2 linked regions of the Homo sapiens genome follow. The protein of the gene in region 2 interacts with the protein of the main gene of each other region in a biochemical or structural test. Each region holds a gene or a part of one and is shown on either strand. Other genes may lie near its edges.

Region 1 (16,221 bases), about 35 Mb from region 2:
ACAGCAAAAGGCACAAAAAGCCTATTTCTTTTATGGTGTCTCGGCTGATTCTTTAAGAAGCAGATAAACAAGGTACTGTATGGAACGATCAAAACTTGGCCTGAGCTGTCTTCTGATAATTAATCCTAGTATATCCAGATTTGTTGTCCAAGGACACAAGCTCCATGCCACCTTCTGCTGTCACTTTCCAAGAAGAGGCTGTTTTTTTTTTTTGTTTCCAGTTTTCACTATGATCTGAGTAGACAGAGAATGTCATAAAATAAATGAGAGTATTCCATTATCCGATCAGAAATGCCACCTCTTTTCCCAACTCATTGCTCTGACTTGAAAGATGAACGTATATATGAATTCTCATTTTATTCTCCTGAGAAATTATGCATGATCCATTATAAAACATACAGGTAATACAAAGTCCAAAAGCCTGTCATGTTTATGGCAGTGGTGTGATCTCAGCTCACGGCAACCTTCACTTCCCGGGTTCAAGCAATTCTCATGCCTCAGCCTCCCAAGTAGCTGGGACCACAGGCGTGCGCCACCATGCCTGGCTATTTTTTGTATTTTTAGTATAGACGGGGTTTCGCCATGACGGTCAGGCTGGTCTCAATCTCCTGGCCTCAAGTGATCTGCCCACCTCGGCCTCCCAAAGTGCTGGGATTATAGGCATGAGCCACCATACCCAGCCAGTTTCATTTATTTTCATAATAGGTTATGAGTACGTGATGTAAATGCTTAAAAGTCATCATCACCATACTGTGCTAAAGATATTGAGAAATTATGCAGAGAAATCTGTGCAAATTCATCTTCTTAGTATCAGATGGTTAAAAAAAAGGAAACAAAAAACAAAAGCAATCCAAATTATTTCTTTAAATACTCTTATTTATACTCAGGAAAACAGATTTGAAAAACTGAACAAGTAGACATCTGCCCCGTTTATGATTAAATAACAATGCCAATGAAGGAGATTCCACAGAAAAAACTGAGATGAAAAAATCCAAATAAAAGCCAACACTGCTATTAAGATTTTTCTTTTAATATGCCATGAGATATCTTGATTGTATATTTTCCAAAGTACTTTCCAGCCACATCTCCCAACCCATCCAAAAGACTTTGCCAGTCTTTCCAATGCAATAAAAGATGCTGGATTATAGTTTTGTCTACCATTTCTTTTTGAAAGCAATATTATACTAATGACTTTAATGGTAATACACTCTTATCTAATAAAGAAACACATTTACAAATATCAGAAACCCAGTTTTGAAACATTTGCATTAATTTTGAACTGAATCAGCATTTTGTGGGTTTTTTAAAAGGCAGCAGTTTGACTCACGACTTGCTGATAAACACGTTTCTGCTGAGGGAAGGGGAAAAGACAGGGAGAGTGAATGCTGCATTTCTCCATTGGCCCCAAAAGTGCTAATTTCACAAAGGGATACATCAAAAGCAAACATGCAATGGTTGTTTTAAAACTTTTACTGCAATATAACAATGAAGTAAACAGTAATTAGACACCTACCAATTTTTTCCCCAAAACAAAAAAAAAATGTAAACAGGAAAATAACTCTGCCTATACTTGTACAGCTTCTCAAATCATGTTAGAAGGGTCTCACATTCAATGATCAAGAAATTTTAAAATAGCAGTAATTATTTTCATTTTAAGAAAAGGTTCCCTTTCTCCCCTCCCACCCCAAGTATTTAACATGAAAGAATGGGCTTCCTTACATATTAATTTTATACTTATTTTTGAAGCAGCAACAATTAACCATCAATTTGGCATTTCTGTTTACAGTCGCTACAAAAATTTTTTAAATTTCACAAAGCCATTATCCAGTGTTGCCATGAAACAGAGACTGTAAATTCTAGGTAGCTAAGATTCTTTCTGAAACCAATGTTAAGTCAAAGAAATATAAAGCAGGGCATTACACTAAGTTTCTGGATCTAGTACACTAAAAAGAGTGAAACCTAGGAAAAGTTACCTACTGTTTTACAGAAGAAATAAAGACCTGCAAAAGCTGATTTTTGGTTGTATATATTTTACACACTGTGTGGAGTTGCGGCATCTGCTAATTGAAGCAGACATGCACTGTATTTATCCCTGCCCTGTATCCTAGATCCCTCCCTCCCCACCCCCAACAATCTACTACCTTATACCAAGTATTGTGGATATGAGCCCAAGTCATCCCAGACAATCCAGTGAACAAGTTAGTGTAATGCACTGGTGTGAAGTGTGAGATATAAAAAAGTCCCTTTCAATCTTCATCAAAGTTCTGCTGTAGAAGAAAATTGGCAGCCAAATTCTCATTCTTCTCACAAGCAAAATACGCTTGTATCACAAGTCCTTCAGGAAATCCTAATGCCTTTAACTGGAAGAAAAAGGAAAAAAATATAAATCCAACACACCAATTATGGCACATTTAATTTTATTTACATATTATAGATTCCAGCATAGCACTAAAGATAAATCATTACTCAAAAACATACTGCAACCCAAAAAAGCTCTTGAGAATTTTACATGAATTCATCTCTATCAATATGGATTTACTGCCCAACCCAAGGGATTAGATGGAATCTAGACCCTTTCCTTTACTAATCACCTAAAAAAGTCTTTGTTTCTAGTTAAAGCTTAATAGATACTATGCAAATACTCTTTGGCCTAATTAAAAATTAGCTGCTAACTGCTATGGTTTAAAAATAAATGACTCTACAGAAATATGTAAATCAAATGGCTTTTAGTATATTAAGAGTGAAGATAAGGATGAGAGTACCTGCAGTATAGTTTAACCACCTCACCTATTTCTAAATTAAAAGCAAATTATGTTTTATTTATTAATGTCAACTCATGTCTTTCATTTGGATCAAACATCACTCTCAATCTCCTTGCTTTATTCAACACTCCATACTAGAAAAACAGGTGACCAATTATTAGTAATACATGGTACATTTTGAAGATAATGTTCTATTTTTATCTGCTTAACAGTTACAGCATTTTAAATGGTAATACCAGCTACTTAATTTCATTTTCCTAGTCTATTATATTAAAAATCACTTGTGACAATACTCACTCCTTTTAAAAGCCTTTAAAAACTCAGCCAAATGTCACCCTCCTCAATTGTCTCAATCACCTTGAGTTAGATCACAGGTCCCAAACCCCAAGACCGTGAACTGGCACCAGCCATTGGCCTGTTAGGAACTGGGCTGCCCAGGAGCAGGTGAGCAGTGGGTGAGCAAGGAACTGGGCCGCACGGGAGGAGGTGAGCAGTGGGCGAACAAGTGAAGCTTCATCTGTATTTACAGCCACTCCCCATCACTCGAATTACCACCTGAGCTCCGTCTCCTGTTGTATCAGTGGCGGCATTAGATTCTCATATGAGCATGAACCCTACTGTGAACTGTGCATGAGAGGGATCTAGGGTCTGTGCTCCGTATGATAGCCTAACAAATGCCTGATGATGTGAGATGAAACAGTTTCATCCCAAAACCACCGCCCCACCCCACTTCCTAACCTAACTAACGCCTGATGATCGGAGGTGGAACAGTTTCATCCCAAAATCACTGCGCCCACCCCACCTATGTTGGTAGAAAAAAAGGTCTTCTACGTAACTGGTCCCTGGTGCCAAAAAGGTTAAAGACTGCTGTGTCAGATTATATTTGGAAATAACCCTTAAAATTTGGGCAAAAATCCCAATTCATCACGAATAACTATTCATCTATGAAAGCAGAAGAAACTAAAAAATCAGTTTGTTATCTGGGTTTTATCCAGATTAAAGCTAGGATAGGTGAAGTAAAGGGTACAATCCAACTGCCTGCTTCTACAAAACACACAATTTAGATTCAAAGACACAAGTAGGTTGAAAGTAAAATGATAGAAAAAGGTATATACTATGCAAATGGTAACCAAAAAAGAGCTAGAATGGCTATATCAGAGGAAACAGATTTAAGATAAAAATTGTTACTATAGACAAAAGGCATTTTATGATAAAAAGGGTTCAGGAAGACACAACAATTATATATAACAGAGCCACAAAATACATAAAATAAAAACTGAGAATTAAAGGTAGAAATTGGCAATTAACAATAATAGAGACAACTACAGCTCCACCTTCAATAATAGATAAAACAGCTAAGGAAGAAGACTTGACTACAAACTAGATCTATCAGATATTTATAGACCACTTAATAAGAACTACACTATATTCTTCTTCAGTATACATAGAACATTCTTCAGAAATACCATGTTAGGCCACAAAACGAACCTCAATAAGTTGAAAAGTATTGAAAGTATATTCTCTGATTATAATGGAATGAATTTAGAAATCGAAAGGAGAAAATGTGGGAAATTCATAAACTTGTGGAAATTAACACAATCCTAAATAACGAATGAATTAAATTAGAAACCAAATGGGAAATTAAAAAACATTTTGAGATGAAAGAAAGCAAAAATACAACATACTAAAACTTATGGGATGCTACTATAGCATAAACGCAGAAGGAATATTATAGCTATAAACATCTATGCTAACAAAGATAGATAATAATTTAATCTTAAACTAAAACTAAACAAAGAACTAAACTAAACCTAACCTAAAAAAGGAAGAACAAACTAGAAGCAAGCAAGAGGGAAATAAACATTAGAGAGACTTAAAACAAAACAAAACAAAAGACTAGAAAAACAATAGGGAGAATCAACAAAACCCAAAGTTATTTTTGTCATTAACAACAACCACCACAAAATGAACAAAATTAAAACCTTTAGCTAAACTGAAGGGAAAAAACAAAAATATCTTAGGACTCAAATGACTGAAATCAGGAATAAATGCAGGAACATTATTACTTTATCAAAAGAGGAAATAAAATGATTATAAGGAAATATGTACAATTGCACGCCAACAAATTAGACAGCTTAGATAAAATAGACAAATTCCAAGTCAAAAACCACCAAAACTGACTCTAAAAGAAATAGAAAAGTTGGCCGGGTGCAGTGGCTCACGCCTGTAATCCCAGCACTTTAGGAGGCCGAGGCGGGTGGATCACGAAGTCATGAGATCGAGACCATCCCTGGCTAACATGTTGAAACCCCGTCTCTACTAAAAAAATACAAAACAAAATTAGCCGGGCATGGTGGCGGGTGCCTGTGGTCCCAGCTACTCGGGAGGCTGAGGCAGGAGAATGGTGTGAACCCAGGAGGTGGAGCTTGCAATGAGCGGAGATCACGCCACTGCAATCCAGCCTGGGCAACAGAGCGAGACTCTGTCTCAAAAAAAAAAAAAAAAAAAAAAAAGAAATACAAAAGTTGAATAGACAAGTAACAAGAGACTGAATCAATAATCACAAAACTTCCCCCCAAAAAAAGCCCAGGACCAGACTACTGGTGAATTCTATCAACTATTCAAAAAATTCACACCAATTCTTTTTTTTTTTTTTTTTTGAGACAGAGTCTCGCTCTGTGGCCCAGGCGGGAGTGCAGTGGCGCAATCTCGGCTCACTGCAAGCTCCGCCTCCCGGGTTCACGCCATTCTCCTGCCTCAGTCTCCCGAGTAGCTGGGACTACAGGCGCCCACCATCACGCCTGGCTAATTTTTTTTGTATTTTTAGTAGAGACGGGGTTTCACCGTGTTAGCCCACACCAATTCTTAATAAATACTTCCAGACAACAGGAGAGAATAATTCCCAACTCACCCTAAGAGGCCAGTATTACCCAGACACCAAATTCAGACAAAAACATCACAAAAAAACTACAGACCAATATGACTTATGAACAGATGCAAAAATCCTCAACAAAATACAAGCAGGCTAAATCCAGCAACATATAAAAAAGATCATATGCTGTAACCAGTAAAATTTATCTCAGAAATGCAAGGTTGGTTCAACATACAAAATCAATCAATGTAATAAAGCATACTAAAGGACAAAAATCACATGATCATCTTAATAAAGAAAGAAAAAAAATTTGACAAAATCCAACACCTTTTCGTGATGAACAAACTAGTAACAGAAGAGAATTTCTTCAATCTGATAAAGGGCATCCACAAAAAACCCATAGATAATATCATACTTAGTGATGAAAGACTGAATGCTTTCCCTTAAGATCAAGAACCAGACAAGGATGTTGTTGGTTCTTGCTAGTCTAATAATATACTGGAGGCTCCAGATAGGGCAGTTAAATAAGACAAAGAAATAAAAGGTATCCATATTGGAAAAGAAGTAAAACTGTCTCCATGTGCAGATGACATGACCTTGTATATGGAAAATCCTAATGAACACATGCACAAACTACTTAATGAATAAATAACAGTTCAAGAAGGTTTTATGATAAAAGATCAATATACACAATTAAATTGTATTTTTATATAGTTAGCAATGAACAGTCTGAAAATGAAATTAAGAGAAAAATCCATTTATAACAGCATCAAAAAGAATAAAAATACTTCGAAATAATTTTAACAAAAGTATTACACAACTTCTACACTGAAAACTACAGGACACTATTGAAAGAAATTATAGAAAAACCTTATTATTAATATGTGACTTCTGAGCATTTGAAATGGGGCTAGTGTGACTAAGGAATTTTTTTTTTTTTTTTTTTTTTTTTTTTGAGACAGAGTCTCACTCTGTTGCCCAGGCTGGAGTGCAGTGGCACAATCTCGGCTCACAGCAACCTCCACCTCCCAGGTCCAAGCAATTCTCCTGCCTCAGCCTCCCAAGTAGCTGAGATTACAGGTATGTGCCACCACGCCAGCTAATTTTTGTATTTTTAGTAGAGATGGGGTTTCACCACGTTGGCCAGGCTGGTCTTGAACTCCTGACCTCAGGTGATCCACCTGCCTTGGCCTCCCAAAGTGCTGGAATTACAGGCATGAGCCCAGCCAAGAACTAATTTTTTTAAAGTTTTACTTAAACTCACCCTTTCTATAGCTTCTTTTTCCTGAGGTGTTACTTGAATGTAGTTCATATGACCACTTCCAGCTTCTGCAATTCCTCCACTGCCACCTCCACCTCCTCCTCCTTGACCACCAGCTTCTTGAACTGGTTCATTTAACATCTGAATAAAATGCTCCTGGTGTTGGCTAATTTGCTGTGGTGATATGAAGGACAGAGAAAAATAATACACTGATATTAAGTATCTGCAGGAACAGAGAAATTCTAAATATTACTAAGAGAAAAGGCTACACTTTTGCAAACGTAATTTAGTGATTCTGGATTATTCAGTCTTTGGAAGGATGTGATTTCTTATACAATAGTAAAGAAATTCAGTACTTTTGGGCAAAGTAAACAGTGAAGAAATTCAAATTCTTAAGTGCTCTGAGCCTCCTGTGCTTAAAAAAACAAAACAAACAAAAAACAAACAAAAAAAACTACTGTGGGACTATAAGAATAGAACTTATTCTTAATACTTGCATGTATTTTTTACCTTCCACACTAGTGGGCATTAAAATGCTGTATAAAATTCAAATACTTGGTGATCTGATCACTAAAGAAGCCCCACAGCTATTTTTTCTAAGAGTAAGTTGTTCCTGTTGCTTAAAAGTTCCTAAGAAAAAGGAACTGAGTAATAAGCTTGTGAAAAGTGATTTAAAGTTAGGCAGTTTCTCTGTTAAACAGCTTCCCAAATTCTTTAACATATTAATGTGTAGTGGGAATCTCCAAAAAGGAAATATAAAATGTTTCCCAAACTTACTACTATTTGGTCAACTTAATTTAACCCAACCTCCATATCCCAACTGTTTTTTTAGTACACCTATCTAGATTACAATATCTAAGTGTAGCTTGGAAGAAAACATTCACATTCTCAAATACAGAGTTGTATTTGAGGAGGGGAAGGACCGTTCATGGACTTTTTCAAATTGTGACACACTCTAAATCACTTGTGAAACTGACACTGATTAGTCACCTGAAGTAATTGAGGATTCTCTCGACCTATCTGCTGTAGTAACGCTGGAAGCAAGGAAGGATTCTGCTGAATAATTTGTCTCATCTGTTGAAACTGAGGCTGATTCCGTAAAAATTCAAGGGGATGTCCTAAAATACACATAAACATTTCTAAACAAAAGCAGTAAATACATACACAAACAGTGGTTAAATAATACATTTAGACAGCAAACACTATCAAAGAAAAAATGATTTGAGTTCTCAGATGTAATAAAATGAAGTAAATAATGATGAAATCTTCCAACTGTACCAACTTGCAAGTTTTATACGGCAAAAATTACTCCTATTAGCAAAGGCAGGGAGTGCAGAACGCTGACTGTAATATGAACCAAACTTTCCTATAATTGCCCTTGGCACTCAACGTTATAAAATAATACTAGAAACTTGTCTCCTGTGTGTGTTCTATCAAAATAAAAAGTACTAAAAGTTGTTCCTGTTGCTTAAAAGTTCCTAAGAAAAATATACACCACAACAAAAACAAAAACTCACTTACTTTATAAACAATGAAAACCCCTAAAAGAACACAATCTGAGCTTGAATTCCTAGGAATTCAAGAAACCAAAGAAGAAAAAGATATTTAAAGTCTGAGGTCAGGTTTTGCAAATCAGGAGAAACTTTAATCCAAACTTACATTAAGGAAGACTTCCGGTTATTACCATTAATTTTCAAACATTTGTGAACTACAAAAACTCGGATAAATAAGCTGTATGGCAATCTAGTACTAATATATCTAAACTCTTCAGTCTAAAATCCATTCACAATAATAAATGTTAATAATGCCAAATAAAATATAAAATACAGAACTTCTGGCTTTTTCAGGGTGCTGGTACTTGTCTGGTTATGCTATAGGAAACCAAAAATCGTACATACAGGAATTGTTTTTGAGGTTACTAATGAATAAAAGAGAATTTTTAGATGTATGTTGTAATTTCCTATTCAGGAAGACAATCATTCCAATTGAAATGACCACAGCACATGGGTTTTTTGTTCTTCCATATATAATACCAGCTTTACAGGTGAAGGCAACGAGACTTAGAGACTATGTCACCTAATAAGTGCTGAAAGGAACAGGACCCCAAATCCAAAGCAGAGCTGTGGTCATCTCTTTCCACTCCCATATGCTGAATCACAACAAACAAAGGGCCTGTCCTTGGGAGACTGTACACAAAGCACTGAGTGACCTTTGTCAACCAGAGGTGACTATCATTATCAGAGCTAGGAAATGCATGGAAGAATGGCCTTTTCAAGATCAACAGTTTAAATTACTTTATTAATATACAGAAGAACGAACGAAGGAGAACACTGCGTAATTCCTAAGCTGACCGCAGGTTCCAGGCTTTGCTCTGTAGTCAGACCTATAGCAATGTGTGGGGTATGGTCAGCACCCCAGTAAAGAGACTTCAATTCAAGCTTTGCTTTCTCCTCTAGATACAAGGTTTTAAACCTCTCACGGTTTCATTTCCTTGGCTGTATAATTACTAAAATCCTGCTGGCTTTGAAATTACATACACTTTGTAACATTTATGGAGAGAGTAAGAGACAAAGTGAGCAAACCATTCTGAATGGCATCAGAAAGTAACACTAAATACAAACTGGAAAGCATCTTTTCCTTAAAACAAATAAAACAGAATATGCCCTTCGGCAAAACTGCAACACTGATGTTTAATATCAGCAAGGATACCTTTTACATCCACTTGGGAAAGTTTCTTTTGGGCCTTTCTCAAACATTAGTGAAGAGAGAACTTAACGAATTATTCGACTGCTCTGGGAATGAACGTCATTTCTGAAGTATTTCAGGTTAAATTATTTTACACTAAAAATTCAGGGCCATTCCCTCCCCATCCAGAAGATTCCGCTTTACCTCCAGAACTTGTTGTTGTAGTTGTTGCTGTCGTAGTTGCTGCAGCTGCAGCCACTGCTGAAGACTGAGGAGCCCCAGTACTAGCTGCTTGAGGGGGGTCAACCACAGCCTGACTTTCTCTATCTCCAGGGATTCCCTGTAATAGAATTTCCAAGCTTTAAGATATCCCATCATGCAAAATTAAATATTATACAGAGTAAAAGATTTATAGTCTATTTAACATCTTGTTTGATTTTCAAAAGCATCAAACAGATGTCTGCTTCAATTAAAAGTAAAGGATTATTAAGCTGCATGGATTCAAATTAGATTAGAAATGACCTGGGTGCATTATAGAAAAACCCACATTGCTATAATAATGCAAAGCAGCACTGTCCAACAGAACTTACCATGATGATGGAAATATTCTCTGTGTTGTTCAATAAGACACCTACCAGGCACACGTAATTAGCATCAAATTTGAAAAATATTGATACATGTACCTTCTTAAAACTGAACACAACCAAAGGTTTTTGTGCTACCTATTAGTTCAGTTGACTTTTTAACTTCTTAGAAATCTTTATCAGCTGTTACTCAGTGATAAAAAGGATTGAGTTTGCAACTCTAGCTTAAGATAATCCAAAAAGAGGTTTTGATGCACACTTGACAGTTCTGAAATGACTCCTGGGGGAAAAAATATCTAATGGATACAGACCAGGTACACAGTGGCCAGGCAGGAGGATCTCCCCTACTGATCCATGGTACTGAGAAAGTGTCACTCAGAAAGTATCTCATAAATTTGAGGTACTTTTCAGTGAAGTGTTTCTTAAAGTGTCAAAGTATCTCATAAATGAGATACTTAAAGTATCTCATAAATGAGATACTTAAAGTATCTCAAAAAATGAGATAAAGTATCTCAAAAAATTTAATTTTTCAAAATTCATAAAATCGATATAAAAGAAATTGAAACCATTTAGTTTTTAGGTGATGCCTTTTGTAAGTTTATAGTACTTATCTTTTAAAGTTATTAAGAGCTTAAAACTGCATGCACTAAACTCTTTTGGGACACCTATTTTGATGCACATGATTGATAGACTTGTCATTTAAAATTTTTAAAAAGTCTTTATCAAGTTCTTATAGATTTTGAAGAGAATAAAGAACCAAGTATTACAATTGAATAAGATGATAAATGCTTCCATTCCCTAATAAACCAGAAGCCAAAAGCAACAACATATAAAGGATGAAGAGTAACACAGCAGGAAAATGGCTGCATGGATTAGATGTCACTCCAGGCATTAAAACCAATGTTTTTGAATGAGTTAACCAACGCAAACCCTTAACTCAGATGGGCAGTTATTTAAGTGCTAACAAACTACATACAAATTTAGGATCCAGGGCGTCCATCAAATTCTCTTTTATTAAACTAAAAAGTTCATCTTTATTGCTATAGATCGACCTCTATTCTCACACATTACATAGCCTCTTATATAAATGCTCAACATTTCTTCTTTCCATCCGTTCACCTTAACCTATCTCTTAACTAGTAACAGTTAAAAGCAACTTTTCCCCTTCAGTCTATGAAACAAAGAGCAAATATATAAAAAACATTTTAGTTATAAATTGTTTTTGATGAACTCATGTATCATCTATTTATTTGCATTTGATGCTCTACAGCAGTTTTAGCATTTGGTAACAATGATTCTGTATTTTTATACCTCAAAACTCCACATCTATTAGATCAAAATAACTGATACTGTTGAACTTATACAGAATTCTAAATCAGGTGTAAATGAAAGCCACTCCATAAAAGCTAATACTTTTATACAATCTGTTTAGGGTACACACTCCTCACCAAACAAATTCACAACAATTATTAATTCCACAATTCCAAACAAACTGGATAAACTGCCAGCATTTAAAGACACTACTCAAGAAGATAATGAAAAAGTGAATTTAAAAAGATAAAATAATATGCTAAGAAAAAGGTTTTGTGAACTTCACATGCAAAGGCATAGGCAAATAAATGGTGGAGGCAGAGTACAGTTATGAGGCTTATAACTGACTCTTCTGAAACTAGCTAGCTACCTGAAAGGAGTTTTTAACAGAAGTACAACCTAGACACAAAGGAATGGGTTAAACTGTGGATGTAATTCCCAAAAGGGTTAGAATCAGGCAACTTTAAGATGATATTTAGGGCAATTCAGACTTTGATAATACTCCAAAACACCAGACAATTATAGAAGTCTGAGATTTTAAAAAACTTAATTCAATTACTTTAGCCTGTGTCACATCTGTAAAACTAGCAGACTTTCATCTTAATACCAAGGGTTTCAGTTGATGTCCACAACAACCTATTTCTCAAAAACTCCCATTACCAGTAAAAAAAAGAATACTTTATTCAAAAAGTCCCTCAACTCCTACTGACTATAAAAACAAATTCAAATGCCAACGGAACCAGGTAGTAACATCATTCATTAAATGCATGATGTTACGTTGGTAACAGAGTGAATCAGAGGATAATGAATTAGATTCCACGATCTAAAATATTTTCCTTAATCCCTTGCAAAAATCTGGGATCAAAGTTGTCCAGTTAAACCAGAAATCTGTACTTTTATGTGAAATTTCCCAGTTTTTAAAAAGCTGGCAACTTATTACAGAAATATACACAGTATAAGCAAAAGAATTTGGCCCGGATTCTCAAGCTTGAAATTTTGGCCAGGCACGGTGGCTCACACCTGTAATCCCAGCACTTTGGGAGGCTGAGGCGGGCGGATCACGAGGTCAGGAGATCAAGACCATCCTGGCTAACATGGTGAAATCCCATCTTACTAAAAATACAAAAAAATTAGCCGAGCATGGTGGCAGGCGCCTGTGGTCCCAGCTACTTAGGAGGCTGAGGCAGGAGAAAGGCGTGAACCTGGGAGGTGGAGCTTGTGGTGAGCAGAGATCATGCCACTGCACTCCAGTCTGGGCGACAGAGCGAGACTCCGTCTCAAAAAAAAAAAAAAAAAAAAGAAAAAAGAAATTTTTGTTCTGAATAATTCACGCATAGTGGCACCTAAAAAGCTACTACAATGTTGGACCATTAGATTAAAAAAGGTTACATTTTATTAACACAAAATACAAACATACTAGAAAAAAAAAAGCATTATGTATATCATCTAGCATATATCAGTGACAAGTGAACTGGTCCTTTAAAATCTGTTTCTTTGAGATTTTAATCTTAAACAACAGAATGGAGTAAAGTAAAACATATTTCTCACCATTAAAAGATACTCCACTGCTCTGTCAGGGTTGTTGAAACTGGCTCTCAGGGCTGCAATTACTTGCTCTCGTTCATAGCCCATTGACATGATCTCAGTTACCATATTCTCGTAAGACTGACCCGTCACTAAAAAGGGAGGGTGGAGGGGAAAAAAAGGAACATTTAATAAATAAGCATTCTCTATACATTTATTGATTCATGTATACAACATTTCAGGAACTACTATGCTGGGAATACAAAGATGAGTAACAGTATAAATTACAACATATATGTAGTAGGTAATGGTCCCCCAAAGATGCCCTCTGGTTTGATCCCTGGAACCTATAAATAGGTTACAAGGCAAAGGGAAATTGCGGTTATAGATAAAATTAAGGTTGCTAATCAGCTGACTTTAAGACAGAGACCTCATTCTGGATTATCCAGGTGGGTCCAGTGTAATGACATGAATCCTTAATAGTAGTAGGAGGAGGCAGATGAGAGGGTCAGAGAAACAGGTGTGAGGAGGAGGAGACAAAACCAGGATGAGAGATGTTATGCTGTTGCCTTTGAAGATGCAGAAAGGGGCTACCAGCCAAGGTATGGTAGGACAGGATCAGGAAAAAAATTCTTCCCCGGAGTCTCCAAAAAGGAATGCCGGCTCCCTGATTTTAGTACAGTGAGCCCTGTGTCACACTTCTAACCTACAGTACTAGAAGACAGTTAATCTGTGTTGTTCTACACCAATAAGTTTGTGGTAACTTACTACAGTAGCAACAGGAAACTCATATAATATGTTTCAGAGTACAATAGAAAAATGAGGTATGAAGGTAAGGGAGAATTAGCAGGAGGTCAGGGAAGGCAACTGGTAAGAAGAGACACCAAATTCTGAAAACATGCTGGGGAAGGGATGGTATTTCAAACCATCAACTCCGATGGAACAAGTTCACAGTTTCCCTTTGATACCTTATATAACTGAAACGGGGGAAAGAGAGGTTAGGAGCTAGAAAGTTAAAATCTTGTACACTATACAAAGTTGGTAAAATGCCCAAAGCGCTAATATTCCAAGTCACTTCTTACAGACTCCTATGCTCCCTCCTCTCAATACAGACAACACTCTGAATAAATGAAACCTATTTTCCTCATAAACTTACCTCACTTAAAACTATCCTTTCTTCTGCTTGTGTTCTGGGGACCATTACCTTTATTGTTGCCTCACACTCAAACCAAACTGGATTTGGTTATCCTCCCTCTTCTCCACCAACATCTTTACCCCTCTGTGTAATTATCCTGGGTCAGTAGTTAACTATGTCCTATATTTCACTCTAAAACAAAAACACACCTCCCACCTTTGACTTCATCCTAATTCCTCTTTGAGGAACCATCTGCTGTCTTCTCATCACAGCCATAGCTATTGAACATGTGTCCACTTTCTCACATTCCACTCATTCCTCAACTAATTGCAATTCAGATTTCCCTCTCAAATGTGTCCCACCATTGTCTGTCTGCTCTCTTTAAACAAATGGCACCTCTATTTACCTAAGCACTTGGACAAAAACCCTGGTGATTTCAGTTCCTTTTCCTCTTCCTTCCACACCTCACTTACCAGCATACCTGGTAGGTCCTATCTCTAAATTACACCCCAAACCCATCTCTTCATTCTCTACTGTCATCACTGAAGACAAGCCCACAACAGTCTCTAGATGGGATTACACCCTGTTTCCAACTCTTGTCTCCATATCTATAATCTGTTCTTCAGCCAGTTGCAAAAGTCAAGTAAACACACACACACACACACACACACACGCACGCGTGTGCGCAAAACCCCTCATTTTATTTCTGGCTCCCAGCCCTCAACAATCCTCCACCCACCACACTCATCTTCCCGGTGTTACTTCAGCAGGCCACACCTTTTCCTGCCCCAGGGCCTTTACACAACACCAGCCATCTTAGATGGCCAGTTCCTTCAACATGCTTCAGTTCCATATTTAAAAGGCATTGCCTAGTCATCCTAGGTAGCCTTCTGTTTTTTCTTTAGGGAAGCCCTTTGTGTTAATATCACTTATCTTTTTTTTTTTTTAATGTTTCATTATTTTTTTCTTGCCCCAACTGAATGCAAGTTTGACTGTGCAGGAAACCATGTCATTCTGCATGTTTCCCTGATACACAGCTGAAACCGAGTATCTGTTGAATAATTTTTTTCTGCAGAATTTTCAAAAATAAAGGTGTTTAATAGCTAAAAACCCCCAAATATCACAAACAGATTAAGCATTTGATATCTTGCTTAAAATAATGACTTTCCTTTTCCCATCCCATAAAACAATAAATTTTAATTATTTATTTTCTTATCTACTGATATAATTCGAGCACAAAGCAACTCAAGTAGCAATACATGTTCAGTAACCTAATTCCCAGATACAGAAATCAGTATCAATACAAACGAAATTACGAGCTACAAAAAATCAGAACTGCACTATTTTAACATGGTGTTTCTCATTTAGTTCTCTCTCACTACTTCATAAGAAAGGTTTAATTTCAACTCCTTTAAAAGATGAGGAGGGTACAGCTTGGAGAGATTAATAATTTGGTAAAGACTAGGTATGGTGGCTCACGCCTGTAATCCCAGCACTTGGGAGGCCGAGGCGGGCAGATCACGAGATCAGGAGATCGAGACCATCCTGGCCAACATGGTGAAACCCCGCCTCTACTAAAAATACAAAAAAAATTAGCTGGGCATGGTGGCACGTGCCTGTAGTCCCACCTACTCAGGAGGCTGAGGCAGGAGAATTGCTTGAACCCCGGAGGCGGAGATTGCAGTGAGCCAAGATCACGCCACTGCACTCCAGTCTGGCGACAGAGCAAGACTGTCTCCAAAAAAAAAAAAAATTCGTAAAAGTATTAAGTCATGGTGCAGAGATACAAACACAGGCTGACAGTCAAGAGTCTCCACACCTAATCATTACACTATGACTCCTAAAATCATGTTTCCTAGTTAAATTATACAATCTCAAAAAAATACCCATAAGCAATGTGATACTTTTTAGATCTTAAAAGTCCAAAGGCAAATGACTTGTAAAAAGAACTAGAGAGGCCAGCACAGTGGCTCGCACCTGTAATCCCAGCACTCTGGGAGGCCGAGGCAGGCGGATCACCTAAGATCAGGAGTTCGAGACCAGCCTGGCCAACATGGTGAAACCCCGTATCTACTAAAAATACAAAA
Region 2 (16,581 bases):
CAACAGTATTAATTTAGTTGACACTGTCTCTTTAAATATTAACTGGAATTTAGCTGACTCATTTTGGAGCAGGGTAGTGTAAACATTTCAACATCACTTAGGAAGTTTATTAATAAACACTTTCAGCTGGGTTTTTAAATGAGCATAATAGGAGCAAAAAATGCTTTCAAATGATAAATATGTATGTATTTGCATGCCCACCACGCACAAAATATGTGTGAATGTTTGCCCTATGCATGAAAGTTGGGTCACTCCTTAAAACCAGTTTAAGTATGCTAGCTTACATTTTCTACACTGAGGCCCAGTCTCATGTGACATTGGCTTTAAAGTTTAAGGCCAAGCGATCAACCTACCTAAGTAATTTTAGTTAATCTGATTCTTAAAATATTTGTTTTAGATAAAATGGAGGATACTCCATCTAAAGATTTCACACACTCAGAGATAACAAAGTATTCCAACTTTGCTTCAGAGAACATGTCTACCTTCATTTCATTATAAATAACTTTCAACTGCGAGACACACAAGAGGTACCAGGACATGAGTCTTCTACATGGGTTCCCATCTTTTAGATTTTTTTCCCCTAGAAAGCCAGCTTTTAAATGCCATCACATGTGCACAGCTTGCTTTAATATTTCTCAGAAGCTCAGATCACATGGGAGGGCGCTTCAGCCTGTCACAAGGCTGCAATGTGACAAGCTGAGCTGGATGGAGGCTCTCACATAAAGCCTAGTCAACAGGGGCCTCTGAAATCAGCTTCTATTTATATCTCAAAGCCTGCCAACTCCTACACAACCCCAAGAACTAAGGATGCAGCGTTCATATATCTAACATAAGAAAACAAAAAAAGGGCTGCTAGTTTTTTCCTAATGTAGGAAAAACTACAGAACAATCTCAATCTAGAAGATGAAAGCATAGTCAAAGCTAAAATGGTCAAGGTTGTTGATAAAAAACTAAGCACAGTGGAGACAGTGTAAAAAAGAATCCTCATTTAGTGAGGATTTAGGGGATGAAGTGGGGGATGTGTGTTCCCATTAGGTATTGCATTCCCCTTGTATTTTAGAAAAAAATACCATTACTATTTATTGCCTTTAAAGTAATTAGCAACTTGAGCATGCACGTGTCAGCTCTATCAGGTATAGCTAGAATGCAGATTTTATAAAGTTTATGGCTTCCTCTAACTTACAGCTTAAAAAAACACCCGAGTGTAACTGAACAATTCTCCAATTCCAATTCTGAACAAAGAGCTTTTACACCTATGGAATACAGTTCTTTCAGGTGCACATGATGTGATGAGATGGCATGAATTCCCACTCACCTGGGAATGGAGACCTGAGTTCAAGTCTCTAGTCTGCCACTAAGTCAGTGACCTTGGGCAAGTCCTTACTTTCCAGATTTCAGTTCCCTCTTTGCCAAATGGAGTAGAATTGACTTTTAAAGGCTCCTTTTCAGGGCCTGGGAGATAGAAAACAGGAGACAACTACAAAGAATCCTTAATTTTTTAGGGGGGTGTGGGGAAACATTTTAACAAAAAACTTCAAAGATAAAATTGCAGTATTTTCACCAACTGAGTTCTGAAAGCCTACTCTTTAAAAAAAATCCTAAAAATAAGGAATAAAATACATTCGTTTATGTTTTTAGAAGTCTGTATCTAAATCCCAGGTTTAAGAACGGGGATGTGTGACCTATATGTTCCTTTATCTTGGTATCTCCTTAGATGCTATCCCTTAGGAGACACTCAATCAATAAAGATAATCCGACCCTTCCCCGAAAACACACCTCCACGGAGTGCGTGGAAAGCGAGCAAAAAATTTCACATTCATCAGCCTAAATGCACCAAACAAAGGAGGTGTTCCATTTCCTCCATGAAAACGGATCTCAGGATAAAAACGCAGCGACGTCGAGAAGCCCAAAAGACGACGCCGAGAACCCCCGGCCCCATGTTCCAATGGATTTTGGAACAAGTTCGGGTCCCACTGATACCCCATCCCCCTCTAAGCAAAGGCCTCACTCAATAAAGCCCAACAGGGCCCTCTCCGAAAACCACTGAGTCATGCAGAACAGCAGCTCAGCAGGCCCGGCCAGCCCTTCGCCTGCAGGCCCCACGCGGATCCCCGACCCCCGACCCCCGACCCCGAACGGCTCCTCTTAGGGGAGAGCTAGGGGGGGCTGCAACGGGCAGGGGGCGCGGCCGCCGCCTCGGCCTCTTTGTTTCTCTGGGTCGTGGTGCCCACGCCGGGCGCCGCCGCGGAGGCGAGCGGCCTAGAGGCCGGCCCCGCAGAGGCGGCACGCCGTGCATTGTTTCCCGACCGTGCTGTGGAGCGAGCCAGGGACGCCGGGAGCCAGGTCTCGGGCCACGACGACAGGATGACGCCTCCGTCTTTGTGCTTCCTGGGCTGGCGGGCGGGCTCCCCTCCCCCGGACGCCGCCATCCGCGGCCTGCTCCGGCTTCGCCATTGGCCCGCGGCGCCCCGGTCCCTTCACTCCCGCCCCCGGCCCGGCAACAAGGAGCCCGGCTCCCACCCGCAGCCCCGTATCACTCACCCTGCAGGGTCCCAAATGCGAAAGCCGGGTTCGCGCGCGAAGCCGGCACGATGAGGCCGGGCCGAGGCCTCCGGGAAGGCTGAGCCGGGCGCCCTGGTGCCGCCGCCGCGGGCCGGGAGCGGGTCGGAGCAGCAGGCGGAGGTGGCGCCGCCGCCGCCGCGGGGTCTTCCTTTGTTCCTGCAGCAGCGTCGAGCGTGGCCGGGACACGCCGGAGCTCGGGAAGTGGGAGGAGGGAAGCGAGGGGGGGCCGAGGAGGAGGTGGAGGGAGGACCGGCGGCCGCAGCGGCTAACGCTGCTCGAGGCGCTCGCCTGTCGTCGCCTCACGCCTCCACAGGCCGCAGGTTGGGCGGACGAGGAGGGCGAGCGGACCGCGCGCCGCGAGGCCTGGGGCCGTAAGGGCCCGCTGATGGCGCTCTTCGCCGCTCCTGCCACCGCCGGGGAAGCTGCGCGGCTCCCGGGAGCGAGCGAGCCCGCGTAGGAGATGCACACAGCTCCGCGTCCCGGCCGACTAACGCACTCGCCGCCCGGCGCCCGGGCTGTGAGGGAAAAGAGGGGGAGGGGGCGGGACCCGTGCGTCAGCGAAAACCCCGGCGGCGGCGGCGGCGGCGGGGAGCGCGGTGACGTCGCGGGCCCAAGGCCACGCCCCCGGTGCCCTGTCAGTAGGTCCAGGAGGCGGGGCCGAGACGGGTTGCTGTGCCTTCTCGCGGAGCCCAGCCACTGGCCTGGCAGTCGGCCCCTAGGGTGGAGCTGGGAAGAGCGAGTCCTGTGGAGGATGCGTTTCTATTTTTAACCCAATTGTCCGCCCTCAGCCTCCCTCCTTCGGATTTTCTCATTCAAACCCGTTTTTCGCCATCCTAGTTCTCACGCTTTGTCTCCAGCCCTGGGCAGACATTCCCTCCCCCAAGAATCGTAAGGATTCACCCCCAGAAAAGGAAAAGAATTGCCTTATGGCTTCGAGGTCTTTTCTGTTTATGAAACCTCCTCACTCCCCACACCCATTTTGAGCTCCGAAGTCCAGCCCGAGCGTGGCCCTGACGCAGCTGGCGGCGTGCGTTCGCTCGCCCAAGGTCACGGGTGGTTGTGCGGAGTGAGGAAACGCGCGGCCGCCCAGGGCTGCCAATGCCCCGGCGGCGCTGTTCTGAACAAACTGTTTTGGCCAGCCTGTGAAATCCCTGGAAATTGACGATTCCAGCAAAGCGTCGTGAACTGGGAAAGCACCAAATGTTCTACTCAAAAGCCGCGAAGGGACAAAACAAGCTAGACCCGAGGCCCAGATGAAGCGGGAGGAGGAGGCTTGCGAGAGGAAGTTCAAGGGGGGAGGTACTAGGCGGGCAGTTCAGGCACGAGGCACAGGTCCCCCATGGGTGAAAGGATGACTTTACCCGGAACACTGGGAACCTTTTCAGAGCACAAACAAAAAACATTTTCAACTGACCGCTCCAAGTGAATTTCAGTTCAACTCAAAATAACAAAATTACTAAGTCGGAAAGGACTTCTGAAATTTTCTAGTAAACAACGGTCTAACGAATACATAGAAATGATGTTTAGGGTTTATATTAGCCACATATAGAATGGAGAAGAGGTCCCTTCAGTGTTTCTCAAAGTTGGTAATCAGAAAAAAAATCACCTGGGGTGATTAAAGATTCCTACGCATCTCCCCTGGATATGGTTTTGGTTGTTCCGGGGTGGGAGCGGGGGTGGGGGGGGGCCCATATTGCGCTTCAGGTGGTCCTTATTTATAATCTGTATTTGGGGGAATGCTATACTGATAGCTTGAGCCACCACTGCCAAATCAAACAGTTCTCCGCCACAGTTAGCAAAGTACCTGGAGCATAACAACCTTTTGTTTTGTTTTTTAACAAATTCGGGTTTATTACTGTGATCAATTAATGTATTAGAGATTTAAGTAGTTTGGGTCACTGGTCCCACGACCACTGCAATTTATTTCCTTAAATTAGCAGATGAATTAGTAAAAAAAAAAAAAAAATAGCAGCTACCATTTACAGGCCATTTTCAGTGCCAACTATTTTCCATTTAGGGTCTCATTTTATCCTCACAGCAATTCACTGAGATAGGTACTATTATCATGTCCCTTTCTACAGATAAAGAAACAATGACTAAAAAGGCTTGCCCAGGGCACTGAAGGGCAGGGAGGCAATGGAGGTGATTATTATTGAGAACAAAAATAACTTGAATTTTAACTTGAATTTTTTTCTTTCTCTAGAATTGGAGTTATAGTGAGTGAAACAAGATAATTCCTGAAGAAGCATACTTTAAAAAAAGTCTAAGGGTAATGAGGCAAGCTCATTATTGAATAGTGTATTCCATAATATTATGTCACCTTCTGATAATTCATCTTCTCTATCACCCATTTATAATTTTCTCTGAGACTGTTTCAATCAAGAATGTTGCAGGTATTGGACCTAAACATACCAAGATTCCTTTTTAGCAGCTATTTTCTAGTGGTTCTCAAAATGTGGTCTCCAGACTACCTGGGAACTTATTAGAAATACAGATTCTCAGGCCCCAGCACCAAACCTGTGGAGTCACAAACTGGGGGTTAGCACAGCCGTCTGTGGCTTAATAAGTCCTCCAGGTGATTCTGATGCATACACAAGTTTGAAAACTATTGACTTAACCCTACCATGGCATCAGGTGACCCCTCTTTTTTTCAGATGGCTCACACCATGTGAAAGGGAAAAGTTTAAAAAAAAAAAGTCTCATATTACTGGTGTAACAGATTAAGGGATATACTTCTAAGAAGGTTTTTGTTTTATTTTTGTTTTCTTATATTTTAAATTTTCACTTGCACTCCAAAGACAAACTGAATTGCTAAACACAGAATATATAAGAGAATGCTTCTAATATAACATGCCAAAGGGCTTTGCTCTATAGTCATTAGGGAAGGTCAACTTTGGCCTGAAACCAACCTCTGTAAAAAAGATAATGAGTAGCCAGTCGTGGTGGCTCACACCTGTAATCCCAGCACTTTGGGAGGCCATGGGGGGTGGATCATGAGATCAAGAGACTGAAACCGTCCTGACCAACATGGTGAAACCCTGTCTCTACTAAAAAATATACAAAAATTAGCTGGGCATGTTGGTGCGTGCCTGTAGTCCCAGCTACTCGGGAGACTGAGGCAGGAGAATCACTTGAACCCAGGAGACAGAGGTTGCAGTGAGCAGAGATTATGCCACTGCACTCTAGCCTGGTGACAAAATGAGATTCCGTCTCAAAAACAAAACAAACAAACAAACAAAAAAACAGATAATGAGCAAAGTTGGTCGTGCTCAAAATGTGATATTGGTTAGGTGTGGTGGCTCACGCCTATAATCTCAGCACTTTGGGAGGTGGAGGCAGACGGATTACCTGAGGTCAGGAATTGGAGACCAGTCTGGTCAACATGGCCAAACCCTGTCTCTACTAAAAATACAAAAATTAGCTAGGCGAGTGGCAGGTGCCTGTAGTCCCAGCTACTCGGGAGACTGAGGCAGGAGAATCACTTGAGCTGGGGAGGTGGAGGTTGCAGTGAGCCGAGATTGTGCCACTGTGCTCCAGCCTGGGATAACAGAGCGAGACTCTGTCTCAAAAAAAAAAAAAAGTTTTGCACATTTGCTACTTTCCAGGCACTCACTTAACTTGGTGCTGGGATATACATTCATGTAAAAAAAAAAGATGTTACCCTGTTCTCATGGATCTTACTGTCATTTGGGGAGAAAGATATTATCATATAATATATAATTATGAACTGGTAAATATTTTGAAAGAAAAGCATAGAATGCTATGGGAGCATATAACCAATCATAACGGATCTTGAAAACTCACCCAGGTCTGAGTTCCAACCATCCCCATGGCCAAAGGAGCCAGGCTTATTTCCTTAAAGTAGGTAACCTGGTAGTCTGCTTAAGAACTCAGGTAAAGTCATTGCAGGTTCTCTTACACTTTTCTTTGTAAACTAGGCCTGGAAAGGGGATTGATGATGGGAGAAGAGCAAATGTAATTAAATTTCTTAGAGAAAACTGACATCCCTTAAAAATAGCAATATAAGTTATTAGTCCACTGTAAAATGTAAAAGACCTGAAGTTATTTTATCTTGACATATAAGTTCCTATTATGGAGACAAGAATTGCTGCTATGACATTATTATAATACTTGGTCATAAGTAACTATTCATTTTCTGTCTGTGCTTGAGTAGAACATGGTGAAGCACAAAGCCTTTTCTAGGGTCTTAAAAACTTCAGAGTGGCCGGGTGTGGTGGCTCATGCCTGTAATCCCAGCACTTTGGGAGGCTGAGGCGGGATGATCACCTGAGGTCAGGAGTTTGAGACCAGCCTGACCAACATGGTGAAACCCTGTCTCTACTAAAAATACAAAATGAGTTGGGTGTGGTGGCGGGTGCCTGTAATCCCAGCTACTCCAGAAGCTGAGGCAGGAGAATTGCTTGAACCCGGGAGGTGGAGGTGGCGGTCAGCGGAGATCACGCCATTGCTCTCCAGCCTGGGTAACAAGAGCGAAACTGCTTCTCAAAAACAAAAAACAAACAAACAAACAAACCCACACACAAAAAGCACAAAACTTTGATGTGTCACTGGACGTTCACATAGTGCCCTTCCTCCCTTTCGTTCCCAGCCCCTTCCCAGATTTCAAAGATCAAGGTAAAGGACTGTTTTATAGAAGTATTTTCAAAATAATTGGCTAAAAGGATTATAGTATTGTATTTAGAGCAAATCCACTAATTTAAAAATTAAGGCTGGGCGCGGTGGCTCACGCCTGTAATCCCAGCAGTTTGGGAGGCCGAGATGGGCGGATCAGGAGGTTAGGAGATCGAGACCATCCTGGCTAACGCGGTGAAACCCTGTCTGTACTAAAAATATAAAAAATTAGCCGGGCTTGTTGGCGGGTGCCTGTAGTCCCAGCTACTCCGGAGGCTGAGGCAGGAGAATCGCTTGAACCTGGGAGGTGGAGGTTGCAGTGAGCTGAGAATATGCCACTGCATTCCAGCCTAGGCAACAGGCAAGACTCTGTCTCAAAAAAAATTAAAAATAAATAAATAAGAAATTGATAAAGCAAGTTGCAATTTCATTATTATATAGACCTTTTGGTAAATTAAAATTCTTAATTATTTTCTCTGAAAATAACTTGATCAAAGAATCTTCAAATAAAAGACATAGATATCTTACCAGATTAGAGAAGACTTTCTGACACTATCTAGATACTATCAACGTAGCATTAAACAATTTTTGAGACTATTTGAAAAACTAAAAGCTTTTATTGTTTTTAATTTTCTTATTATTTTTTTTGAGATGGAGTTTCTCTCTCGTCGCCCAGGCTGGAACCTCCATCTCCCAGGTTCAAGCGATTCTCCTGCCTCCGCCTCCCTAGTAGCTGGGATTATAGGCTCCCGCCACCACCCCCAGCTAGTTTTTGTGTTTTTAGTAGAGAACAAAATCTGGCAGTCTTGTCTTGAACTCCTGACTTCAGGTGATCCGCCCACCTCTGCCTCCCAAAGTTCTGGGATTAAAGGCGTGAGCCATCGAGCTGGGCCTGCCTAATCGTTTATGTAAATCAAGAACTTAGGTTGAAGGAAACTGATGATTTACTATGTATATATATTTTGTTGTAAACACCATTTAAGAAACAAAATATTTTGGTCTCAACTCTTAAGAAATTTTTTTTATTGAACAAGCTAAGTGTGGGTTGTTAATCTCAGTAGTTAGCTCTGGGATTGTCTCAGAAACAATACTTTGGGGCTGGGTGAGGTGATTCAAGCCTGTAATCCCCGCACTTTGGGAGGCAGGAGGATCATCTGAGATCAGGAGTTCGAGACCAACCTGGCCAACATGGCGGATCACCTGAGGCAGGTGATAACCTGAGGTCAGGAGTTCAAGACCAGCCTGGCCAACATGGTGAAACCTCATCTGTACTAAAAATACAAAAATTAAGGCTGGGCATGGTGGCTCACACCTGTAATCATCGCATTTTGGGAGGCCGAGGTGGGTGGATCACCTGAGGTTAGGAGTTCAAGACCAGCCTGGCTAACATGGTGAAACCCCGTCTCTACTAAAAATACAAAAATTAGCCAAGCATGGTGGCGGGTGCCTGTAATCGCAGCTACTTGGGAGGCTGAGGCAGGAGAATCACCTGGGAGATGGAGGTTGCAGTGAGCCGAGATCGTGCCACTGCACTCCAGCCTGGGCGACAGAGTGAGACTCCCTCTCAGAAAAAAAAAAAAAAGAAAAGAAAAAAAATTAGCTGGGCGTGGTGGTGTGTGGCTGTAATCCCAGCTACTCCGGAGGCTGAGGCATGAGAATCGTTTGAACCCAGGAGACGGAGGTTGCAATGAGCTGAGATTGTGCCACTGCACTCCAGTCTGGGTGACAGAGCAAGACTCCCTCTCAAAAAAAAAGAGAAAAGAAAAGAAAAAGAAACAATACTTTGGAGCATATCATAACCTGGGTTCATGGGTGGTGGGGTTGGCCAGGAAGACAGGAATGGTGTCAGTGATTTAGTTAGAGCCCAGCAACTGTGCTGTTATAAAGCTTAGGCAGGAGGCAATTGTTCCTAAGGTCCTATTAGCCAGCAGAAAAAAAGCTAGAAACAATTAGGGAGGTCAGGATTCAGACAGAAGACTAGCATGAGAAAAGTGGGTAGGGTGGGCCTCTGTCCTGGAGCAATCTAAGTTCTAGGCAGAGAGCCAAGGCAAGTATCTTAAGTTTGTGTAATGTCTTTCCACCTACAATGTATATTCAAATGTATTAATTTGATAAATTCTCACAACAGCCTATTGAAATAACTCTTATCTCTCCTTTTGCTGGAGGAGTTGACTGACTGAGGCTCAGGGCAAAGTTATATATCCTGTCCATTGTCATATATCTAGTGAGAGTACAACCTTCTGTTCTTTGGCACAGTGTTTGTTGCCTCTTCAGGATCACTTCCCCCTTTAAATTTATTTCATAATTATATTTACCATTAGAATGTTAACCTTTTTTTTTTTCTGAGAGGGAGTCTCACTTTGTCACCCAAGCTGGAGTGCAGTGGCGCGATCTCGGCTCACTGCAACTTCTGCCTCCCAGGCTCAAGCAGTCCTCCCACATTATCCTCCGGAGTAGCTGGGACCACAGACACGTGCCCAGTTAATTATTTGTATTTTTGGTAGAGATGGGTTTCACCATGTTGCCCAGGCTGGTCTCAAACTCCTGAGCTCAAGCAATCTGCCTGCTTTGGCAGATGGATTACAGGTGTGAACCATGGCGCGAAGCCTAGAAAGTTAACCATTCTTTTTTTTTTTTTTTTCTGAGACAGAGTCTCACTCTGTTGCCCAGGCTGGAGTGTAGTGCCATCATCTTAGCTCACTGCAACCTCTCCCTCCTGGGTTCAAGAGATTCTCCTGCCTCAGCTTCCCAAGTAGCTAGGACTACAGGCACATGCCACCATGCCCTGCTAATTTTTTTGTATTTTTAGTTGAGATGGGATTTCACCATGTTAGCCAGGATGGTCTCGATCTCCTGACCTCATGATCTGCCCACCTTGGCCTCCCAAAGTCCTGGGATTACAGGCATGAGCCACCGCACCCGGCCATACCATTCTTATCTTGTGTATCGCTCACCTCACCCAGCAGTCTCTAACAGGCAACTTCTGTCTCTTTTGCTAGCTCCAGCTTATCTGTCCATCTCCTAAATGTTGGCATTTTTTAGGTCTAGGTCCCGGGCACTCTTTGTTTTTTCACTGCTCATACTCTCTCAGAGCGACTTTACCCACCTTCATAGATTCAAATGAAGTACTCAAAGGAATGAGTATCTGTACTCATCCCTTGGCTTATAAATGGTTTATTTATGAATTTTTCACTTACAAAGATATAGCTATTTGTATTTATTTATTTATTTATTTTGAGACAGAGTCTCACTCTGTCACTCAGGCTGGAGTGCAGTGGCATGATCTCGGCTCACTGCAACCAGCCTCCTCGTTCTGGACTCAAGAGATTCTCACGCCTCAGCCTCCCCAGTAGCTGGGATTATAGGCATGTACCACCATGCTTGGCTAACTTTTGTATTTTTAATAAAGACAGGTTTCACTGTGTTGGCCAGGCTAGTCTCAAACTCTCTGGCCTCAAGTTGTCCACGTGCCTGAGTCTCCCAAAGTGCTGGGATTACAGGCATGAGCCACCACACCCAGCTGACAAAGGTATATCTATTTTTAAAATTTTACTTACAAACATTTTTCAACTTAATCCAGAAAACTCTTCTTTTTTTTTTTGTTTGTCTTTGCATACTGAAGTTATGCTCTGTCATTGGAAGAGAAATGTATAGCTAACCACTACTATTGTTAGGTAGTGAATAAGTGGGAGTAGTGAATAAATATCTAGAAATAGATATGAATTTATATTTATTCCATGTGGATCAATGGCTCTAGAATGAACAAGATAAAGTTTGAACCTGGGAATTTCAGAGCCAGTACTTCAGATACTGGTATATGACTGATTTAAGTTGTTTTTGTATTATAACTTACAACATCATGACCAACTCTAAATGTGAAGCATATAAATATGTAAGGGAAAATTCTTTTTATTGAAAAATTAAAAGTGATAAACTGAAGCAGGACAAATAAATAAAAACATTAGCTTCACCAAAGAAGATATACAGATGACAAATAAGCATATAAAAAGATGCTTCACATAGGCCGGGCATGGTGGCTCACGCCTGTAATCCCAGCACTTTGGGAGGCTGAGGCAGGAAGATCACGAGGTCAGAAGATCGAGACCATCCTGGCTGACACAGTAAAACCCCGTCTCCACTAAAAAACACAAAAAAATTAGCCGGGCATGGTGGCGGGCGCCTGTAGTCCCAGCTACTTCGGAGGCTGAGGCAGGAGAATGGCATGAACCCAGGAGGTGGAGCTTGCAGTGAGCCGAGATCGCACCACTGCACTCCAGCCTGGGTGACAGAGCGAGACTCCATCTCAAAAAAAAAAAAAAAAAAAAAGATGCTTCACATTATATGTCATCAGGGAAATGCAAATTAAAGCAACAATGAGATACCACTATGTACCTATTAGAATGGCCAAAATCCAGAAAACAAACAACACCAAATGCTGGTGAGGATGCAAAGCAACAGAAACTCTTATTCGTTGTTGTTGGGACTACAAAATGGTAGTCACTTCGGAAGGCAGTTTGATGATTTTTTATGAAGTTAAACATACTCTTACCATATGATCCAGCAGTCACACTCCTTGGTATTTACTCAAAGGAGTTGAAGACATGTCCACAAAAAAACCTGCACACAGATATTCATAGCAGCTTTATTCGTAATTGCCAAAACTTGAAAGCAACCAAGATACCCTTCAGTAGGTGAATGGAGAAATAAACTGTGGTACATCCAGATAATAGAATATTATTCAGTGCTAAAATAAACGTGTTATTAAGCCATGAAAAGACATGGAAAACTTGAATGGATATTACTAAGTGAAAGAAGCCAGTCTGAGGTCCGGGCGCGGTGGCTCACGCCTGTAATCCCAGCACTTTGGGAGGCCGAGGTGGGCAGATCACGAGGTCAAGAGATTGAGACCGTCCTGGGCAACATGGTGAAACGTCATCTCTACTAAAAATACAAAAATTAGCTGGACGTGGTTGGCGCACGCCTGTAGTCCCAGCTACTCGGGAGGTTGAGGCAGTAGAATCGCTTGAACCGGGGAGGCAGAGGTTGCAGTGAGCCGAGATCACACCACCGCACTCCAACCTGGCAACAGAGTGAGACTCTGTCTCAAACAAAAAAGAAGCCAGTCTGAAAAGTACGTACTGTTAATTTCAACTATATGACATCCTGAAAAAGGCAAAACTATGGGAACAGTAAAAAGATCAAGTGGTTGCCAGGGGATAGAGGGGAAAGAGGGAGGAATATGCAGAACACAGAGGATTTTTATAATAGAGAAACTACTCTGTGTGATACTATAATGGTGGCTACACGTCATGATCAATTTATCCAAACCCACAGAACCTACAACACCAAGAGTGAACCCTACTTTAAACCAAGGACTTCGAATGATAATAATGGGTCAATGTAGGTTCATCAGTTGTAACAAACATACCACTCTATGGGATGTTGATAATGGGGAAGGCCATGCATGTGTGGAGGCAGGTGTATATGGGAAATCTCTGTACCTTTCTCTCAATTTTGCTGTGAACCTAAAATAGCTCTTAAAAATAAAGTCTATTATTAAAAATAAAGAAATAAGTGGGATCCCTCAAATTCAGACAAGCTTTGATTGTCACCCCAAAAATTAAAAAACAATTAGGTCTGTTAAGTGCTTGGATAATATAAAATTGAAAAAATAAGAGATTGTTAGGTTTTTGTGTTTTTTTTTGTTTTTTTTCCAGACAGAGTCTCACTTTGTCACCCAGGCTGGAATGCAGTGGCGAGATTTTTTTTTTTTTTTTCCAGACAGAGTCTCACTTTGTCACCCAGGTTGGAATGCAGTGGTGAGATCTCGGCTCACCACAACCTCTGCCTCCCGGCTTCAAGTGAGTCTCCTGCCTCAGCCTCCCGAGTAGCTGGGATTACAGGTGTGCACCACCACACCCAGCTAATTTTTGTATTTTTAGTAGAGACAGGGTTTCACTATGTTGGCCAGGCTGATCTCGAACTCCTGACCTCATGATCCGCCTGCCTCGGCCTCACAAAGTGCTGGGATTACAGGCGTGAGCCATCACGCCTGGCCTGTTAGGTCTTAGTAATACTATCGCTGAACTGTGTCTAAGGCTAAGCCTAAATTGTTGGGATTTCCTGAAGCTTTTGATGCTGGAGAGAATGCTTCCTTGAACTTCCTAATTATATAGCAGAAGGTGATGTCTTTGAAGCCTTCACGAAGGCAATTGAGGGAGTCCAGCGAACTAAAGAGTAGAGTTCAATGGGCATCACAGATTTCAGATTCGAGAATATTAGTCTTAGGTTATGGGATAGATTGCAGCTGTAGACTATTGAGGTACTTGATAATGGCACAGAGGAACTTCAGAATAACTTCAGTATCTGTCATTATCATCGTATTTGAAGAAAACTGATCTTTTTGGGGAAACAAATTCCCTGAAATCCAATGCTCTCTTGTACTTTTTATTGGATATAGAAGGATGGTCCATATCAGTCTCCTCCAGCTTTCCCAAAGATCAGAGAAGCAGAGAAGATTTCTTTGTTGCTTTCTGTGGAGACCTGAAGACCACCCTGTGCAGTGGGTCTGATAGAAGGAGGCACTGACACCCCAGGTGCACTTGCAGCTTCTCTTCTAGTCCAGTTCCTTCCTTTCAGGAAGACTTCTCTTTCTCCATCCTTTTCTGGCTAAGAGGTTTAGAAGCTAAGAGATTGAGCAGCCTTCAGGATGAAAGAATGAAATAAAGGATTCCTCCATGTTGGTCAGGCTGGTCTCAAACCCCATCTCTACTAAAAATACAAAATTAGCTGGGCATGGTGGCTCATGCCTGTAAGCCCAGCTACTCGGGAGACTGAGGCAGGAGAATCACTTGAACCCGGGAGGCAGAGGTTGCAGTGAGCCGAGATTGCACCATTGCACTCCAGCCTGGGCAACAAGAGCAAAACTCCTCAAAAAAATAAATAAATACATACATAAATAAATAAAGGATTCCTGCAATAGGAGTTAGATGCAACTGGATGACTTCTAAAGTCCCTGGCAATTATAAGACTGTGATTTCTGGCCAGGCACAGTGGCTCACACCTGTTATCCCAGTACTTTGGGAGGCTAAGGCAGGCGGATCACGAGGTCGGGAGTTCAAGACCACCCTAGCCAACATGGTGAAACCATGTGTCTACTAATGATACAAAAAATTAGCCGAGCATGGTGGCATGAGCCTGTAATCCCAGCTACTCGGGAGGCTGAGGCAGAAGAATCGCTTGAATCTGGGAGGCGGAGGTTGCAGTGAGCTGAGATTGCACCATTGCATTCCAGCCTAGGCGACAGGGCGAGACTCCATCTCAAAAAAAAAAAAGACTGTGATTTCTTTGAGTGCTTATTTAAATAGGTAAATTTATGGTTAATTTAATGTTTTTAAAAAAATTTCATTCGTTTGTAGTCACTTGACCTTATAGTTAAGATAGAATATTTAAAGATGTTAAAAAGACAGAATTTTACAGTAAATTAATTTTTTTTTTTTTGAGACGGAGTCTCGCTCTGTCGCCAGGCTGGAGTGCAGTGGCTTGATCTTAGCTCACTGCAACCTCTGCCTCCCAGGTTCAATCGATTCTCAATCTCTTGACCTTGTGATCTGCCCGCCTTGGCCTCCTAAAGTGCTGAGATTACAGGCGTGAGCCACCGTCTCCATCCAGTAAATCAATTTTGAAAATAAAAACCAATACAGCAACATGACTACATAAAGATTAAAGGAACTATATGTGTTACGAGCAAATAATGTTTAGTATTTATTTTGTGCTTACTTTGTGCTTTTATATGCCTTATCTCTAATTCTTACAATAATTCTTTGAAGCAGTGATGATCATCCTCTTTTGCAGAGGCAGAGCTGAGGCACAAGGAGATAAGTAACATGTTTAAAATTGTATAGTTGCTATCTGAGAATGAAGTCAAACCCAGGTCAGTCTGACTTCCAAAGTCGAATTCTTTCCAATATAGTAAGTGCCTTTCCTAAACCATTGACAGTTGCAGAATTTTCGACTTGCAGTGAATACTAGAGGGTCCTCTCCAGTACCCCACCCAGCATAGAAGTCTTCTAAACAACATCTCCAGACCGGGTGTGGTGGCTCACGCCTGTAATCCCAAAGCTTTGGGAGACCGAGGCGGGCAGATCGCCTGAGGTAGGAAGTTCAAGACCAGCCTGACCAACATGGAGAAACCCTGTCTCTACTAAAAATACAAAATTAGCCAGCCAGGCGTGGTGGCACATGCCTGTAATCCCAGCTACTCGAGAGGCTAAGGCAGAAGAATTGCGTGAACCCGGGAGGTGAGCCGAGATCATGCCATTGCACTCCAGCCTGGGCAACAAGAGTGAAACTCCATCTAAAAACAACAACAACAACAAAACATCTCCAGCATTCAGATTCTGTGCTGGTACCGCTAATACTGTGAAAGGATTTGCTCACAAGGCAATCTATTCCAACTTCCCCAGAATCCTGAGATAAGATTTAATCAGGCTGGGCGCGGTGGCTCACGCCTGTAATCCCAGCACTTTGGGAGGCCGAGGCAGGCGGATCATGAGGTCAGGAGATCAAGACCATCCTGGCTAACATGGTGAACCCCCCCCGTCTCTACTAAAAATACAAAAAATTAGCCGGGCGTGGTGGCGGGCGCCTGCAGTCCCAGCTACTCGGGAGGATGAGGCAGGAGAATGGCATGAACTCGGAGGCGGAGCTTGCAGTGAGCAGAGATCGAGCCACTGCACTCCAGCCTGGGCGACAGAGCGAGACTCCCTCTCAAAAAAAAAAAAAAAAAAAAAAGGAACTTTAGTGTTCCATTTAAATATATTCCACCACTATTAAGATACCATTGGGGCCAGTCATGCTGTCACCTGTAATCCCAGCACTTTGGGAGGCCGAGGTGGGCAGATCACCTGAAGTCAGGAGTTTGAGACCAGCCTGGCCAACATGGTGACACCCCATCTCTACTAAAAATACAAAAATTAGCCTGGCATGGTGGCAGGTGCCTGAAATCCCAGCTACTCAGGAGGCTGAGGCACGAGAATCTCTTGAACCGGGGATGGGGAGGTTGCAGTGAGCCAAGATCGTGACACTGCATTCCAGCCTGGGAGACAAAGTGAGACTCTGTCTTAAAAAAAAACAAAAAAACAAACAAAAAAACAAAAAAAAACATTGCCAAAAAACAGCTAACAAATTTTATTATAAAAAGACTTACTGAGAGATCATGCTCAACAGTGTGGCTATTTCTTTTCTTTTTTTTTTTTGAGATGGAGTCTCGCTCTGTCACCAGGCTGGAGTGCAGTGACACGACTTCGGCTCACTGCAACCTCTGCCTCCCGGGTTCAAGCAATTCTCATGCTTCAGCCTCCCGAGAAGCTGGGATTACAGGCACGT

The links.
Region 1: the proteins of ZFAND5 (region 2) and RAD23B form a complex in vitro, tested with the Homo sapiens proteins (one study listed by BioGRID).

Annotation. Positions count from the first base shown.
Region 1 is NC_000009.12:107,315,682-107,331,902, reverse strand, and holds part of RAD23B (UV excision repair protein RAD23 homolog B), read right to left. Parts: intron 13,152-16,221; coding exon 13,024-13,151; intron 9,921-13,023; coding exon 9,785-9,920; intron 8,014-9,784; coding exon 7,886-8,013; intron 7,070-7,885; coding exon 6,899-7,069; intron 2,361-6,898; coding exon 2,247-2,360; 3' UTR 1-2,246. UniProt on the Homo sapiens protein: Multiubiquitin chain receptor involved in modulation of proteasomal degradation. Binds to polyubiquitin chains.
Region 2 is NC_000009.12:72,362,155-72,378,735, forward strand, and holds the start of ZFAND5 (AN1-type zinc finger protein 5), read right to left. Parts: upstream 3,055-16,581; 5' UTR 2,542-3,054; intron 2,439-2,541; exon of another isoform or gene 1,453-2,438; 5' UTR 1,316-1,452; intron 1-1,315. UniProt on the Homo sapiens protein: Involved in protein degradation via the ubiquitin-proteasome system. May act by anchoring ubiquitinated proteins to the proteasome. Plays a role in ubiquitin-mediated protein degradation during muscle atrophy.